Linked DNA regions of Homo sapiens: all the other regions are reported to be linked to region 3. Evidence: microRNA targets listed by miRTarBase, many of them from high-throughput screens and not tested one by one. Region 3 holds a microRNA gene; each other region holds the end of a gene's coding sequence.

What was found. Region 3 holds the annotated microRNA hsa-miR-6868-5p (ACUGGCAGAACACUGAAGCAGC, at 1,356-1,377, opposite strand). A microRNA usually pairs through its seed, bases 2 to 8, with sites in the 3' UTR of a target mRNA and lowers its output. Matches are read on the target gene's strand: a 7mer-m8 pairs with bases 2 to 8, a 7mer-A1 pairs with bases 2 to 7 and ends in A, and an 8mer does both.
Region 1: the mRNA of SSX5 is a reported target of hsa-miR-6868-5p. Seed matches in the 3' UTR shown: 7mer-m8 at 1,875-1,881.
Region 2: the mRNA of ZNF710 is a reported target of hsa-miR-6868-5p. Seed matches in the 3' UTR shown: 7mer-m8 at 2,532-2,538.

What each region holds. Positions count from the first base shown.
Region 1 is chrX:48,183,058-48,188,122 of GRCh38, reverse strand. SSX5 (SSX family member 5) reads left to right here. Exons shown (of 8, transcript NM_175723.2): 7 at 392-496; 8 at 1,267-1,903. The coding sequence ends at 492. Among named protein-coding and RNA genes, the nearest start is that of SSX5, 11 kb to the left of the region's middle.
Region 2 is chr15:90,079,227-90,084,291 of GRCh38, forward strand. It overlaps ZNF710 (zinc finger protein 710), which reads left to right. Exons shown (of 5, transcript NM_198526.4): 5 at 434-2,965. The coding sequence ends at 603. IDH2 (isocitrate dehydrogenase (NADP(+)) 2) reads right to left here. Exons shown (of 11, transcript NM_002168.4): 11 at 3,819-5,065. The coding sequence ends at 5,040. ZNF710-AS1 (ZNF710 antisense RNA 1) reads right to left here and starts at 2,981. Exons shown (of 2, transcript NR_146321.1): 1 at 2,213-2,981. RefSeq lists an enhancer at 4,752-5,065.
Region 3 is chr17:76,096,695-76,101,765 of GRCh38, forward strand. It overlaps MIR6868 (microRNA 6868), which reads right to left and starts at 1,382; the gene lies at 1,325-1,382. It overlaps EXOC7 (exocyst complex component 7), which reads right to left. Exons shown (of 19, transcript NM_001013839.4): 3 at 4,985-5,071; 4 at 4,577-4,682; 5 at 1,102-1,324.

The DNA of each region.
Region 1 (5,065 bases), not on the chromosome of region 3:
TTCCAAAAAAAAAATTGCAACATCTGTGAAGCAGTATGAAAATGAGGTGCAATAAAACAAGGTACGCCTGTGTGGCCTTAATAAATACGTGCTGAATGAAAGGAGGTAAGGGTGAATGTTCCCGTAAGTGAAGAGGTTGGGAATCTAAACCTGACAACGGAAGGAGCCAGAAGCTAAAACTTTAATTTGCATTTGGCCTGTATTGGTGTGGGTCTAAGGTCTCAGCCTCTCTAAGCCAGAGAATGTGAAAAACTGGATAAAGAAGACCCATGGGCACTTGGTGGTGGGGAGGCATCTCCTTTTTTGGAGAAAACAGAGCCTAACACTCTCCAATCAACCCAACCCTCTCCAATCTACCCAACCCTCATCTTCCAACTCTTCTCCATCATAGGACCCAAAAGGGGGAAACATGCCTGGACCCACAGAGTGCGTGAGAGAAAGCAACTGGTGATTTATGAAGAGATCAGCGACCCTCAGGAAGATGACGAGTAACTCCGTAAGTGAACCTTTGGCTCATCTCCCACATCCTTGCAGATGTGCTATTCTGTTATGGTACTGGTATCCCATCTTATCAGTTGTTCCCCAAATCATTCCCTTCTCATAATTTTCTAGGGTACAGCATTGAGGCTGAATGATGAAATTTCCCATGTTTTTTTTTGTGGGTGGGGGAGTCTCCTTTTGTTCCCCCAGGCTGGAGTGCAGTGGCATGATCTCGGCTCACTGCAAGCTCCGCCTCCCGTGTTCACGCCATTCTCCTGCCTCAGCCTCCCCAGTAGCTGGGGCTACAAGCACCCGCCACCACGACCGGGTAATTTTTTTTCTTGTATTTTTAGTAGAGACAGGGTTTCGCCATGTCAGCCAGAATGGTCTCAATCTCCTGACCTCGTGATCCATCTGCCTCCGCCTCCCAAAGTGTTGTGACTACAGGCGTGAGCCTCTGCGCCTGCCTAACCATGCTCTTTCTACTCCCTGCCCTCTATATCCAGGGATCCTCCCTACCCAGGATGCTGTGGGTTCCCAAACCCCAGGTCAGCACTGATATGCGGGCCACACCTTCCTCTAGCCTAGGAATTGATAACCCAGGCGAGGAAGTCACTGTGGTATGAGCAGATGGTTCACTTCAAGGAACCATGGAAGGCGTGTACAGGTCCTGAGGTAGGGCAGAATCGGAGTGGGCAGGGTCTGCAGGTCAGGAGGAGTTGAGATTGAGTTGTCATGTGGTGGGAACTCACTGCCACTTACTTTCCTTCTCGCTTCTTGCCTCAGCCTCGGGGATATGACACATGCCCATGATGAGAAGCAGAACGTGGTGACCTTTCACGAACATGGGCATGGCTGCGGATCCCTCGTCATCAGGTGTATAGCAAGTGAAAGCAAGTGTTCACAACAGTGAAAAGTTGAGCGTCATTTTTCTTAGTGTGCCAAGAGTTCGATGTTAGTGTTTCTGTTGTATTTTGTTACAGTGTGCCATTCTGTTAGATATTAGCGTTTTCACTGATGAGCAAGACATACTTAATGCATATTTCAGTTTGTGTATCCATGCACCTACCTCAGAAAACAAGTATCGTCAGGTATTCTCTGCATAGAACAACACTACCCTCCTCTCTTCCCAGATGTGACCACTGAGGGCAGTTCTGAGTGTTTAATTTCAGATTTTTTCCTCTGCATTTACACAAACACACACACATGCCACACAGACACACATGCGCGCGCGCGCGCACACACACACACACACACACACACACACACACACACACCAAGTACCAGTATAGGCATCTCCCAACTGCTTTTCCCCATGTGTCCTGGTCAAGCCCCCCTCACTCTGTTTCCTGTTCAGCATGTACTCCCCTCATCCGATTCCCCTCTATCAGTCACTGCCAGTTAATAAACCTTTGCAAACGTTCCCCAGTTGTTTGCTCCTCTCATTATTGTGCACACAGCTCTGTGCACTTGTGTGAATATTTCTTTAGGAAAGATTCTTAGAAGTGGAATTGCTGTGTCAAAGGAGTCATTTATTCAACAAAACCCTAATGAGTGCGTCCTCGTGCTGAGCGCTGTTATAGGTGCTGAAGAGACATCAGGGAACAGGGCAGACAGATGTTCCTGACCACCATTCTAGAGGAGGATGTTTCCAGTTGTTGGGTTTTTTTTGCTTTTTTCTAGAGACAGGGTCTTACTCTGTCCAAGCTGGAGTGCAGTGGCATGATCATAGCTCAATGCAGCCTTGATCTCCTGGGCTCAAGCGATTCTCCCACCTCAGCCTCCAGCGAAGCTGTGACTACAGGCACACACCATCATGACCCACTAATTTTTTCAGGTTTTGTCAAGAAAGTCTCCCTATATTACCCAGGCTGGTCTCGAACTCCTGGGCCAAAGCGATCCTCCCATCTTGGCCTCCTAAAATGTTGGGATTACAGGCATGAGCCACCGCAACTGGCCTCCAGTTTTTATTTTGATAGAGACTATACACTTCAGTCCTGGAGCAGTATTCTGCAGCAGGTGGTTGGGAATCTTGGCCTTTGCTCTCTGAACGATTTTCGGGTTCTAGGGCTGGGACGGTCCATTTGGGAGTATGTGGTAGGAGACACAGATGAAATCATCATCTGGGGAATGCAGAGGGATGGGGAAGATGCGTGCACTGTAGACCCTGTGATGGCCAGGGAATAGAAGAGTTCACTTAGTCTCCATGCGGGGGAGCAACGGTGGGAAAGTCCCCTGGACAGAAGCATGAGACTGCCCATCAAGGGTCTCACCACCCAAGGGCCTGGGGGCTGGGGTGGAGACGATGATTTGGGAATGGGACAGTTCTTTCTCACAGGTACCACTGCACGGTGCAGAGGTGAAACAGTTGTGGGGAAGGGAAGGGCAGAGGGGAGTCTGTTTTAGAACAAACCATTGTGTGTGAATGGAGACATTAATGCTTGAAACACAACGGACTTGAAACAGCAGCCCCAGGTGGAGGCAGGATTGGAGCTGTTTTGACCATTCATACCCCATCACCTTGGCCTCCTGGTTCTCCCCAGCCTTGGAAGGAGAACACTATGATCATTATGCCTATATGATAGATGAGAGATAGAGTCCCAGACAGATGGTAGGTGTCTTGTCACAGGTCCTACAGCTGGCAGGTGCAGGAGGAGCTGAGTTTGGAGCTCACTGACTTCAGAAACATTAAGGAGGACAGGTGTGTGTGGTGGAGGGAGGGAGAATTGAACAAACTCCGGGTTCTGTCCCCAGTTGCAAGGTAGAGGCTGTGGGTTCATTTTCCCAAGACAAGGAGCCCTAGGAGAGAGAGAGTGCGGGGAGGGAGAGGCGGTCATGGTCACAGCAGGGACAGTGGGAGACAGAGATATGCAGGGTGGGCAGAAGAGGGGCAGGCAAAGAAGCAGGGGATACCCAAGGCCAAGTGTGGGCTGTCACAGCCACCAGAGGGAGAGGGTGCCAGGAAGGAGGTTGTGGGGCTCCAGGAGCAACAGAGGTTCCCCAGATCTGTGAGCATGCCCTGCCTGGCACTTCAGGAAGAGATGGCTTCCACCCAGGTCAGTGTGGACGTGCCTCTACCTGTGTCTCAGAAGAAACAAATTCTATTTTATCCCAATATAGTTCTGTATTACACAAATGTAACATTCCGATACTAGATATTGAGTGCCTTATCCTCCATGCAAAGAGGAGAGAATACCCTAAAAGAGATACTGAAGGATTTGACTTTTCTTTCTCCCTGGGATGATGGGATCCATAAGTTGGGTCCCCCAGCCCACAAGACAGGTGCAAGGAAGGGTGGCTGGAAGATTGTGAGTCATGACAGGGAACATTTTTCCTTAGGTTCCTTGGGTATATAAAGCTCCCGACTATCTGTCTATCATGGATAAAGAGTGAACATGGTCCCCTCTCCACAAATGTGTTTCTCTACTTCATTATTACTGTGAAGGGCTGAAGTTACACCAAGTCCTGATACATTTCTTTTTCGTGTTTTTTTTTTTTGAGACAGTATCGCAGTCTGTCGCCCAGGCTGGAGTGCAGTGATGCAGTGATCGAGGCTGCTCACTGCAGCCTCGATCTCCCAGGCTCAAGGGATTCACCCACTTCAGCTTCCGATCTAGCTGGGACTACAGGCACACACCACCACACTCAGCTGGTTTTTGTATTTTTTTGTAGAGACGGCATCCACTATGTTGCCCAGGGTGTTCTGGATCCCCTGGCCTCAGGCAATCTTCCTGCCTCAGCCTCCCAAAGTGCTGGGATGACAAGTGTGAGCCACCTCGCCAGGCCTTCAGTTTCTTTAATGAATAATTATCAGAGTTTCATCTTAGAGGCAAAAGTGGCTACTGCCAGCCAATCTGTCTGTGGTGTTGGAGGGGAATCTGGCTGATTCAGACGTTTCTGATGAACTTTTAAATTAACTTACATGATGATTTTCCTAAGGCCCTTTCCAGCTCCGTGTTTTCTTTGATTCAGGGTTTGGAGATTTTCAGAGGCTTTGTTACAAAGAGCGTCTCCTGGGCGGTCGCGGTGACCCACACTGTAATATCAGCACTTCGGGAGGCCGAGGCAGGCAGATCACTTGAGATCAAGAGTTTGAGACCAGCCTGGCCAACAGGGTGAAACCCCCGTCTCTACTAAAAATACAAAAATTAGCCGGTAGTGGTGGCTGGCCTGTGAATTCCAGTTACTGCAGGGAGTGAGGCGGGAGAATCCCTTGAACCTGGGAGACGGAGGGTGCAGTGAGCCGAGATCATGCCACTGCACTCCAGCCTGGGCGACAGAGTAAGTCTCTGTCTCAGACAGCATCTCTCGCCTATAGTGATTTGAGCTGTGGTCTTGTCTCCTTGGGTTTCTCTATCAGTCTGATCCCATCTACTCTGTCTCCCAGGTATGCCTCAGTATTCCTGGTGGACCACTGACACGCTTTCCTATTTTCCTCTACTGTTAAGAATTGACCCTTGAAAACATTTTCATCCCAGTTCAATGGAATGTTGAGTGGGGCATGGGATCTATCTGCCATCTTGCTCCAATCATCTGGTTTTAGATATTTATGTACTTTTGTCACTATAGACGTGTCTTTTTTCTC
Region 2 (5,065 bases), not on the chromosome of region 3:
GCGAGGCCTGCGAAGTGGCTGGCATGCAGCAGGTGCTAATGAGTGCTGCAAAGGTGATGTCACGCAGGCAGCTTCCCGTGGCCAGAGAAACATTGCAGAGAAGGGATAAGTAGGGCTTAGTGACTTTGACGGGTCAATGGAAGAATGACCCAAAGAAGGCTTCAAGGCCAGGCCTGCAGTTCTCCACCACAAAGGCCCTCACTGATAGCACCCACTCCCCCACACTCAGCTTTGGGGCCTAGGTCTGGTCACCCAGCTAGAAGCCACAGGACCCTGAGGCGTCCGAGGGTGGGAAGGCTGAGAGGCAGCTGAGACTCCTGGAGGCCGTGACTGGGAAGCCCTCTCTTTAGAAAGGCCATCAGCTTCCTGCGTGGGGGTGACTGGCTCCTCCCGAGAGATGGCAGCCAGGTCTGACTGTGCCCCTCTCTTACAGACCCCATGATGGAGCTGACAGGCACTGACCCTTCAGAGCTCGACGGCCAGCAGGAGATGGAGGACTTCGAGGAGAACGCCTACAGCTATGCGAGCGTGGACAGCAGCGCCGAGGCCAGTGTCCTCACTGAACAGGCCATGAAAGAGATGGCCTACTACAATGTGCTATAGCGCAAGCTGGGCCACCCCTAACGGGGGCCGGGGGCGAGGGCATGGGGGTGAGACCCATGGGCTGCAGGCTGCACCTCCTGCAGCCGAGAAACAAGCTACTGCCCCACTGTTCTGAGCCCTCCCTCCCCGAGTCATTTGCACCACTAGGGACCTTTAGACCAAATGGAGACTGTACTACTGGCCCCGGCTGTGAGCCAGCACAGGCCCAGGCATCCCAGCAAGGGAAGGAGAACACGCGAGGCCCAGATCTGGGTCTCCCTGGCCTGCTTCCGTGGGGAGTGGGAGAAGTGGGGCCACTGGGGACAGGTCACAAGGGCACCGGCCCTCGGGGTCTCTCCAGGCCCAGCAGAGCTCTTCAGGGGTCCTGACACTGGAAGAAGAGACCACTTGAGCCATGTCTTTTTCACGGCCAACTCCTGCCTCTAAGGATGTCTGAGCTCCCCTCTGGCCAGTACTGCCCACCTCTACCTTGTCCAGGCCCCCTTCCCCGCCCTGTCGACGGACCGCCAGGCAGGGCACTCTGCCTTCTACCTCCCGGGGTCTCCCATGCGCTCCTCAAGCCAGGTGTGCACGTGGCCCTGGCCCTGGCCTGCAGGACAGCTGGGGGGCACCCAGCCCCCAGAAGACCCCTGTCCTACATCCCTTTCTGGAAGTGAGTGTCCCTACAGTGGATTGCAACACATGTCGTCCACTTCGACCCTAGCTGGAGTGCCTCACCAGGGGGCCCCACTAGGAACAAAGCCAGGACAGGCCCCGCGTCAGGCACACACTAACAAAACCAGAAGCATGGGGCAGGGCAGGGCGGAGTGAGGGCATCACAGGGGACCAAGAAGGGCTGTCCTTGGGGGAGGCCCAGGACCACCTGTCGGGGAGGGGGACCGCAGTCATTTCTCATTCCTCAGTGTCCACCTTGCGACGGGGATAGCCACGAGTCAGCAGCTTCCCGGAAAGAGCAACGTATTTTAAAAAGGAAAGTAAAGCCCACAGAGGGAAATCAAGGGTTTTTTTGAGCAAAGGGGGTCTTCTGAAGGTAACTTATTATTTTTTTCTTTCCAACTGTGTGTCACCTATGACCTTTTCTGATGGAGATGCATTTTCTTTTTCCAAGCGTAAGCTTCCTAATGTGCTGTGCGTGCTTCCTACCCACCCACCCCGAGCAGCCTGGCCGGGCAGGACTGGGGCTCCATGGGGACTGTCACCCTGGCCCTGGAGGTGCAGCCGCTGGCAGCAGCCTCAGCAGGCTGGGGTGGGAGGCAGGAGAAGGCAGAGCTGGGAAGCCCTCCACCCCTGCCTGGCTCCTGCAGTCGCTGACTTGCTCTGTCCCATGTCCCATCCTCGGCTGTCAGGGCTGCTGACTCTGCTCAGCCAACAGCTAGCTCCCTCGCTCGCCTGCTCTCTTCCCCTCTGTTCCCACGCCAGCTCCTGCCCCTGGAACCAGAGATGACAGGCCCAGGGCAGTGAAATAGCACATTCAGGAACTCTAGGGCACCCGGACCCCCCCACCCACTTGCCTCCTGAGGCCTCAGTGGGGAGGGGCAAGCAGGGGTCTTCCCCAAAGGCACAGATGAAGCCACTAGCTTCAGCCTAGAAACCCGGAGAAGGGAACAGCCTGCGGTGGGAGGAACCAATCTGCAGCGCAGCCACCCCCAAGGCTGGATCCTTAAGTGAAGGACCAAGCCAGGCCTCAGGGTGACTGTGATCAGGACTGAGGGGTGGACAAGGTGGCCCAAGTATGGCTTCCAGACCCCGAAGCCCCACGACCTCCCAGGTGCCCGCCATGATGACCCTCAGGTGGCAGTGACCCCGTCACTGTATAAGACATTTTCTCCTGCTGAGCAGAAGGCATCATCCCCTGCAACTACCTCTTCCCACGTCTTTCTCCCCTGGTACCAAAAAGAACCCTGTACCTCTCCTCCTCCTCCTCCCTCCTGCCAGTGCAGTGGCCTTGGTCTTGGAAACTGAAGGGAGAAGGTCTGGCCCCCAGGGTGGGGCTCTCCTTTCCCTCCCCCAGCCCCGCCGTCAGCACTGGCCCTCTGTGAGGTTCGATACTTGAACGCCCCCTGCCCTGTGCCTTGGACCTGGGCAAAGCTAGGAGGAGGAAACAGCACAACTCACAGTTTGAGCTGGGGGGTGGTCTTGGCAAGGCTCCTGTCTGTACCCCTCCCTAACCTTCTCAAAAGAGGTGCACAGCCTCTCGGGTGACTTGGAAACTCCTGGACAAATTCCATTCTAACTTATTTTGACATGTATACAAACCAACTGTTTAGAGATTCCACTTGTGCAAAGCCCTACTGTGTTTTTATGTTCCTGTTTAAAAGAGAAGTTTACTTAGCAATAATTATAAATAAATGAATATTCTTTAGTGAGGTGACTGCAAATGCTTCTTTCCCCAGCTCTTGGGGACCTGGCCCTCACTCCCAGCAGGAACTCCCAGCAAAACTTCCCAGCCCCACACAGCAGGGCTGCACTCTCCCAGGGCCCGGGGGAGGCTGAGACCATCCTCTGCACTGGAATGGCCCCCTGCAGGGCCAGGCGCCTATAGCCAGCTGCCCCGGGCCCAAGAGAGTGGTGTGGGCCACGGCCCCTGTATTCCCACCACTTGCAGAGAAAAGCTGCTTCCCCTCCCTACCCACCCACATGGCTTCAGGAAAGAAGCCAGCTCCCGATGCCAGGCTGGGCTTCAGAGGCTGCGTTCTGCAGAGCTGCCAGCCCCGTGCTGGTGACAGGCAAGAAGAGGCAGGAAGCCTTGAGCTTCCTCCCAGGGGCTGGGCCTGCTAGAGCCAGCAGTCCACGTTTCTTCTTATAGCCCTGAGAGTTTCAGGGCATTACTCAGGAAAAGCAAGCGGGGGGTCACCAGTGTGGATGGAGGGCTAGAGCCCTTCCAAAGCCACTCAGTCTACCGCAATGGTCGGGTTTCAGGAGCCATAGGAGTCCCCCCAGTATTTAGGAAAGGGACTTTGTAAGATGGGGTTTTGAGAGATGGGGTCTCACTCTGTTACTCAGGCTGGAGTACAGTGGTGCAGTCATAGCTCACTACAGCCTCAAACTCCCGGGCTCAAGTGATCCTCCCACCTTGGCCTCCCAAAGTGCTGGGACTATAGGCATGAGCCACCACACCTGGCCAGGACTTTATAAAGATTATACAACTCTTCTCCAGGACATTTTAACACCAAAAAGAAGAAGCTTTGCAGAACTTACTATGCAGAGGACAGTCCTTTTGATTATATGTAGCTTTAGAGCAACTTTTATTTTTCCTTTTTACATGGGGCTAAAAAACTTGCATAGAGCAATTTTTTTTTTTTTTTTTTTTTTTTTTTTTTTGAGACAGAGTCTTGCTCTGTCACCCAGGCTGGAGTGCAGTGGTGCAGTCTCGGCTCACTGCAACCTCTGCCTCCCAGGTTCAAGCCATTTTCCTGCCTCAGCCTCCCGAGTAGCTGGGACTGCAGGTGCGCATCACCACGCCTGGCTAATTTTTGTATTTTGAGTAGAGATGGGGTTTCACCATGTTGGCCAGGCTGGTCTCGAACTCCTGGCCTCAAGTGATCCACCCACCTCAGCCTCCCAAAGTACAGGGATTATAGGCGTGCGCCACTGTGCCCGGCCGAGAACAATTTGTCACAAGCTTACTTTTCTAGTTTTGCCAATGCATGGTGAAAGTGAACCCAAGCCTGGGAACTGCAGGCCTAGACAATGCAGGGCCCTTGTTCACACACACCCAAGCCCCTCCAAACTCAGGCAGCCTTGGAAAGGAGAAGTGTGAGGCAGGTGTGGGTAGGACCTCTTTTTAGTACCTAGAAAAAGGCTAAGAAAGTGGCCTGGAGATGTTTAGAAGGTTAAAACCAACGAAGAAAAAAATCAATGACAACCTATCAGGAACTGATTGACTCTCAGAATGGAGAACTGGACACAGAAACTGGATCATGCTAGAAAATTCCAGGGAACCCACAGGCCTGTGCCCTGAGTGTCCGAGAACTCCGCAGTGGGCCCCTGTGGAATGCGGGCTCCCAGGGCTGCCTGGTCCCTTCCCTGCCGTGGCAGCCCCTTCCTGAGGTGCTCTGGTCTGCCCCAGGGGAACCTGCCAGCTCTAGCAGGGCCTCTGCCTCAGGGTCCCACTACCTCCTCCCCTCAGGGACAAACACAGCAGACAATTTTGTGAAGAGCTTTTTAGTAGCTAAATATGGCACCATGTGTTCCAAGGGCAATATAAATTACAGTATGCAAAACATACTGACTGGCTGAGGTAAAACGCACTGCTCCTGCCTCACGTCACCATGAGGGGAAACACACATATGCTTTTAAAAACATCTGGCTTATAAAAAAACATCCCCTAGAAAGGCCTCCAGAGAGGGGCTGTGAGGCTCACCCTCTGCCGCGCTCAGGAGGACCCGCCGGCTCAGCCCTGGCCCCTCCACTGCAGCCATGGGTGGCGCCTCCCCCTACTGCCTGCCCAGGGCTCTGTCCA
Region 3 (5,071 bases):
TACAGGCATGCGCCACCACGCCCAGCTAATTTTGTATTTTTAGTAGAGATGGGGTTTCTCTATGTTGGTCAGGCTGGTCTTGAACTTCTGACCTCAGGTGATCCGCCCACCTTGGCCCCCCAAAGTGCTGGGATTACAGGCATGAGCCACTGCACCTGGCCTTCTTTCTTTTGAGACAAGAGTCTCACTTTGTCAACCAGGCTGGAGTACAGTGGCGTGATCTTAGCTCATTGCAACCTCCACCTCCCAGGCTCAAGTCATTCCCCGCCACCTCAGCCTCCCAAGTAGCTGGCTCTGCAGGCATGCGTCACCACACCCAGCTAATTTTTTTATTTTTTGTAGAGACAGGGTTTTGCCATGTTGGCCAGGTCTCGAACTCCTGAGCTGAAGCGATCCACTCACCTCAGCCTCCCAAACTGTTAGGATTACAGGCATAGCCACAGCACCTGGCATAAATAAACCTTAATAGTGCTCATCTTTGGCTTATGTAATGGAGGCATCAGGGAATGGGAGATGGACTTTTACTTTTCACCCATGGCTTTGAAAATTTTACAACTAATCAAAAAAGGCAAAGGAACATAAAAATCAAGACAAGAAAAGTTTGAATTTGCCTAGATTCACCACTTGATATACAAGTCATAGAATGGTTGCTTATATTCTTATATTGGTTCCAGTTAAACATCCTTTTATCAAAAAAACCATGACAGGTGGATTAAAGAATAAAGGGGGCCAGGCATGGTGGCTCACATCTGTAATCCCAGCACTTTGGGAGGCTGAGGTGGGCAGATCACCTGAGGTCAGAAGTTCAAGACCAGCCTGGCCAACATGGTGAAACCCCATCTCTACTAACAATACAAAACTTAGCCAGGCATGGTGGCATGCGCCAGTAATCCCAGCTACTCGGGAGGCTGAGGCAGGAGAATCGCTGGAACCCGGGTATGCAGAGGCTGCAGCAAGCCGAGTTGCACCATTGCACTCCAGCATGGGCAACAGAGCAAGACTCCATCTCAAAAAAAAAAAAAAAAAAAAAAAAAAAAGAACAAAGGGGAGAAAACTCCCTCTGCCTCTGGTGTGTCATGTGGCCAAGCCAGAATCCCTTACCTTGGTTGCGGCCATATTCCACCAGCCAGCGGGAGATGCGAATGACATCCTGGAGCACGCTCTCGGGCAGGTGCTCCAGGGTCACGTCCTCCTGGGCCTCCAGATCATCGTCACCACTGATCAGATCCAAGATGAGCACGGGCGAGACGACCTTACTGTGCCGCGTCATCAGGCTGCGAAATTCGGACTCCAGGGCCTCCTTCCCGCGCTCAAAGAGCAGTTTCTGCACAGACAACAGAAGGAAGCAGGTGCCTGCTGCTTCAGTGTTCTGCCAGTCCTGGCCTTCCCCTGCCTGTGCCAGCTCTGTCTTCTTAACTCAGGGCCTCTGCCCTTTTCTGCCCTGATATCTTTTTTTTTTTTGAGAGGGAGTCTCGCTCTGTCACCAGGCTGGAGTGCAGTGACACAATCTTGGCTCACTGCAACCTCCGACTTCCTGGTTCAAGCAATTCTCCTGCCTCAGCCTCCTGAGCAGCTGGGATTACAGGCACGTGCCACCATGCCCAGATAATTTTTGTATTTTTAGTAGAGACGGGGTTTCACCATGTTGGCAGGATGGTCTTGATCTCCTGACCTCAGGTGATCCACCCGCCTCAGCCTCCCAAAGTGCTGGGATTACAGGCATGAGCCACTGCACCTGGCCTGCCCTGATATCCTTTAACCCAAAGAAGAAACGCTGGGAAGCGGCCTTGGTGACTCCTTTACTTCATGTTCTCTCAAAATTTGTGTTTACAGGTAAAACCCAGGGTTTTACAAGAAGTAGGTGCTTAATAAATACTGGCTGATTGGCCGTGCACGGTGGCTCACGCCTGTAATCCCAGCACTTTGGGAGGCCGAGGCGGGCAGATCACAAGGTCAGGAGATCGAGACCATCCTGGCTAACAAGGTGAAACTCCATCTCTACTAAAAATACAAAAAAAAAAATTAGCCGGGCGTGGTGGTGGGCACCTGTAGTCCCAGCTACTCGGGAGGCTGAGGCAGGAGAAAGGTGTGAACCCAGGAGGCGGAGCTTGCAGTGAGCCAAGATTGCGTCACTGCACTCCAGCCTGGGTAACAGAGTGAGACTCCGTCTCAAAAAAAAAAAAAAAAAAATACTGGCCGATTATTTTCTCACTGAACCGTTAATTTGTCTTCTTGTTAGTGGGGGGTTTGCAAAAGAAAATAAATAAATAAATTGAACAATATCAAGTTGAAAACTTTTGTGCTGCAAATGATACCACCAACAAAGTGAGGATAACCCACAGAATGAGAGAAAATATTTGTAAACTATGTATCTGATAAAAGACAGGTATCCCAAACATAAAAGAGAATGAATCTGTCCACACGATGACATATATAAGAGGGTTTATAGCAGCATTATTCACAAGAGACAAAAATTGGAAACAACCCAAGTGTCCATCAAAGGATAAATGGCTAAAGAAAATGTGGTCTGGCTGGGCACGGTGGCTTACGCCTGTAATCCCAGCACTTTGGGAGGCCGAGGCAAGCAGATCACCTGAGGTCAGGAGTTCAAGACCAGCCTGGCCAACATGGTGAAACCCCGTTTCTACTAAAAATACAAAAAATTAGCTCGGTGTGGTGGCAGGCACCTATAATCCCAGCTACTCGGGAGGCTGGGACAGGAGAATCGCTTGAACCCAGGAGGTGGAGGTTGCAGTGAGCCAAGATTGCGCCATTGTACTCCAGCCCGGGCAACAAGAGCATAACTCCGTCTCAAAAAACAAAACAAAACAAAAAACCAAAAAAAGAAACTGTGGTCTATCCACAAAAAGGAATATCATATGGCATGAAAATGAAATGAAGTACTGATACATGCTATAGCATGGATTGATCTTGAAAGCATCACGCTAAGTGAAAGAGGCCAGTCACAAAAGGCCATGTATTATAAGATACCATTTATATTAGAAATTCAGAATAGGCAAATCCATAAAGACAGAAAATAGATTTGTGATTTCCAGAGGCCAAGTCACCATCTTGCTCTGATGATCTAATGACCCCAAAACTTAAACACAAAAATATGATGAAGGCAGGTACAGTGGGTAATGCCCGTAATCCCTCCCAACACTTTGAGAGGCCAAGGTGGGAGGATCACCTGAGGACAGTAGTTTGAGACCAGCCTGAACAACACAGGAGACCTCATCTCTACAAAAAATTTAAAACTTAGCTGGGTATGGTTGCACATGCCTGTGGGCCCAGCTACTTGGAAGGCTGAGGTGGGAAGACTGCCTGAGCCCAGGAGTTCGAGGCTGCAGTAGCTATGGTTGTACCACTGCAGTCTGGCCTAGATGACAAAGCCAGATCCTGTCTCTTAAGATAATAATGCAAAAAAAAAAATCACATAGATTCAAGTTCCTAGAGTAGATTCACAGAAACAGAAAGTGGAATGGTGGTTACCAGAAGACAGAGGAAGGGAGAATGGGAAATTAGTGTTTGATGGGAGTGGAGTTTCACTTGGAGAAGATGAACATATTTGTGGAGATAATGGTGATGGCTACATAACATTGTGAATCTACTTAATGCCACTGTTAACTTAGAGTTAAAATAGCACATTTTGGCCAGGCACGGTGGCTCACACCTGTAATCCCAGCACCTTGGGAGCTGAGGCGGGCGGATCACCTGAGGTCAGAAGTTTGTGACCAAACTGGCTAACATGGTGAAATCCCGTTTCTACTAAAACTACAAAAAAAAAAAAAAATTAGCCGAGAGTGGTGGCGCACACCCTCCCAGCTACTCAGGAGGCTGAGGCAGGGGAATCACTTGAACCTCGGAGGCAGAGGTTGCAGTGAGCCGAGATCGTGCCATTGCACTCCAGCTTGGGAAACAAGAGCAAAACTCCATCTCAAAAAAAAAAAAAATTTATATTATGTATTTTTAACCAAAATAAAGGAACAACAAATGCATTTATAAAAATCAAACGTGGCTGGGTGCAATGGCTCACGCCTGTAATCCCAGGCCAAGGCGGGGGATCATCTGAGGTCAGGAGTTCGAGACCAGTCTGGCCAACATGGCGAAACCCCGTCTCTACTAAAAATACAAAAATTAGCCAGGTGCGGTGGCGAGTGCCTGTAATCCCAGCTACTTGGGAGGCTGAGGTGGGAGAATCACATGGACCTGGGAGGCAGAGGTTGCAGTGAGCTGAGCACTGTACTCCAGCTTGGGTGACAGAGCAAGACTCTGTCTCAGGAAAAAACAACAACAACAACAACAACAACAACAAATCAAATGTTAAGTTTATATTTTATATGTAATTTATAATTTAATTTTTATAATACATTAACAAGTTTTATAATAAAGAATTTTTAATAATAAAAAATGTGCAATTCTTGAAGCAGAGATCCTAATGCCTATAGGATGTACTGTGCTATATCCTTCTGTGTATTCTACTGCATACATCCTCAAGCTGGCTCCATGTCCCTCATGAGACCAGGGCAGAGACTGATATCCCCAAGCTTCTCACGTTATTCTGCGGACCCCTTACCACTTTGTTGAGTTCCGGGCTGTCTGGGCTGTTGTCCTGGAAATACTCCACTGCCTTCTGAATCTTGGCCATGCTTCCCAGGTACTCTTCCAGCCTACCTGTGGGGCTGGGAAAGAAAAGAGCCAGGTCAGGCTGGGGCATGGGGGATGAAGAAGGACTAAGGACACAGTATTTGGGAAAAAGAAAATTAATACAGGGGACTCCAGGCTCAAATATATTCTATCCCCCCACTGCCTTTTAAGGCCTAGGGCTTAAAAGGCGTCTCACTGTGTTGTCCAGACTGGTCTTGAACTCCTAGTCTCAAGCGATCCTCCCACCTCAGCCTCCCAAATTGTTGGGATTACAGACCAACCCTCCTGTTGGCCCAGGAGGCATTAGGAATTGACCCTCTGGGCCTCACTCACTCACCCCTCTCTGATGATCTTCTCAGTGTCACTGGCCACATGGTAGTAGCTGATGACATGGTCCAGGCAGGACAGCGTCTTCTCAACATTC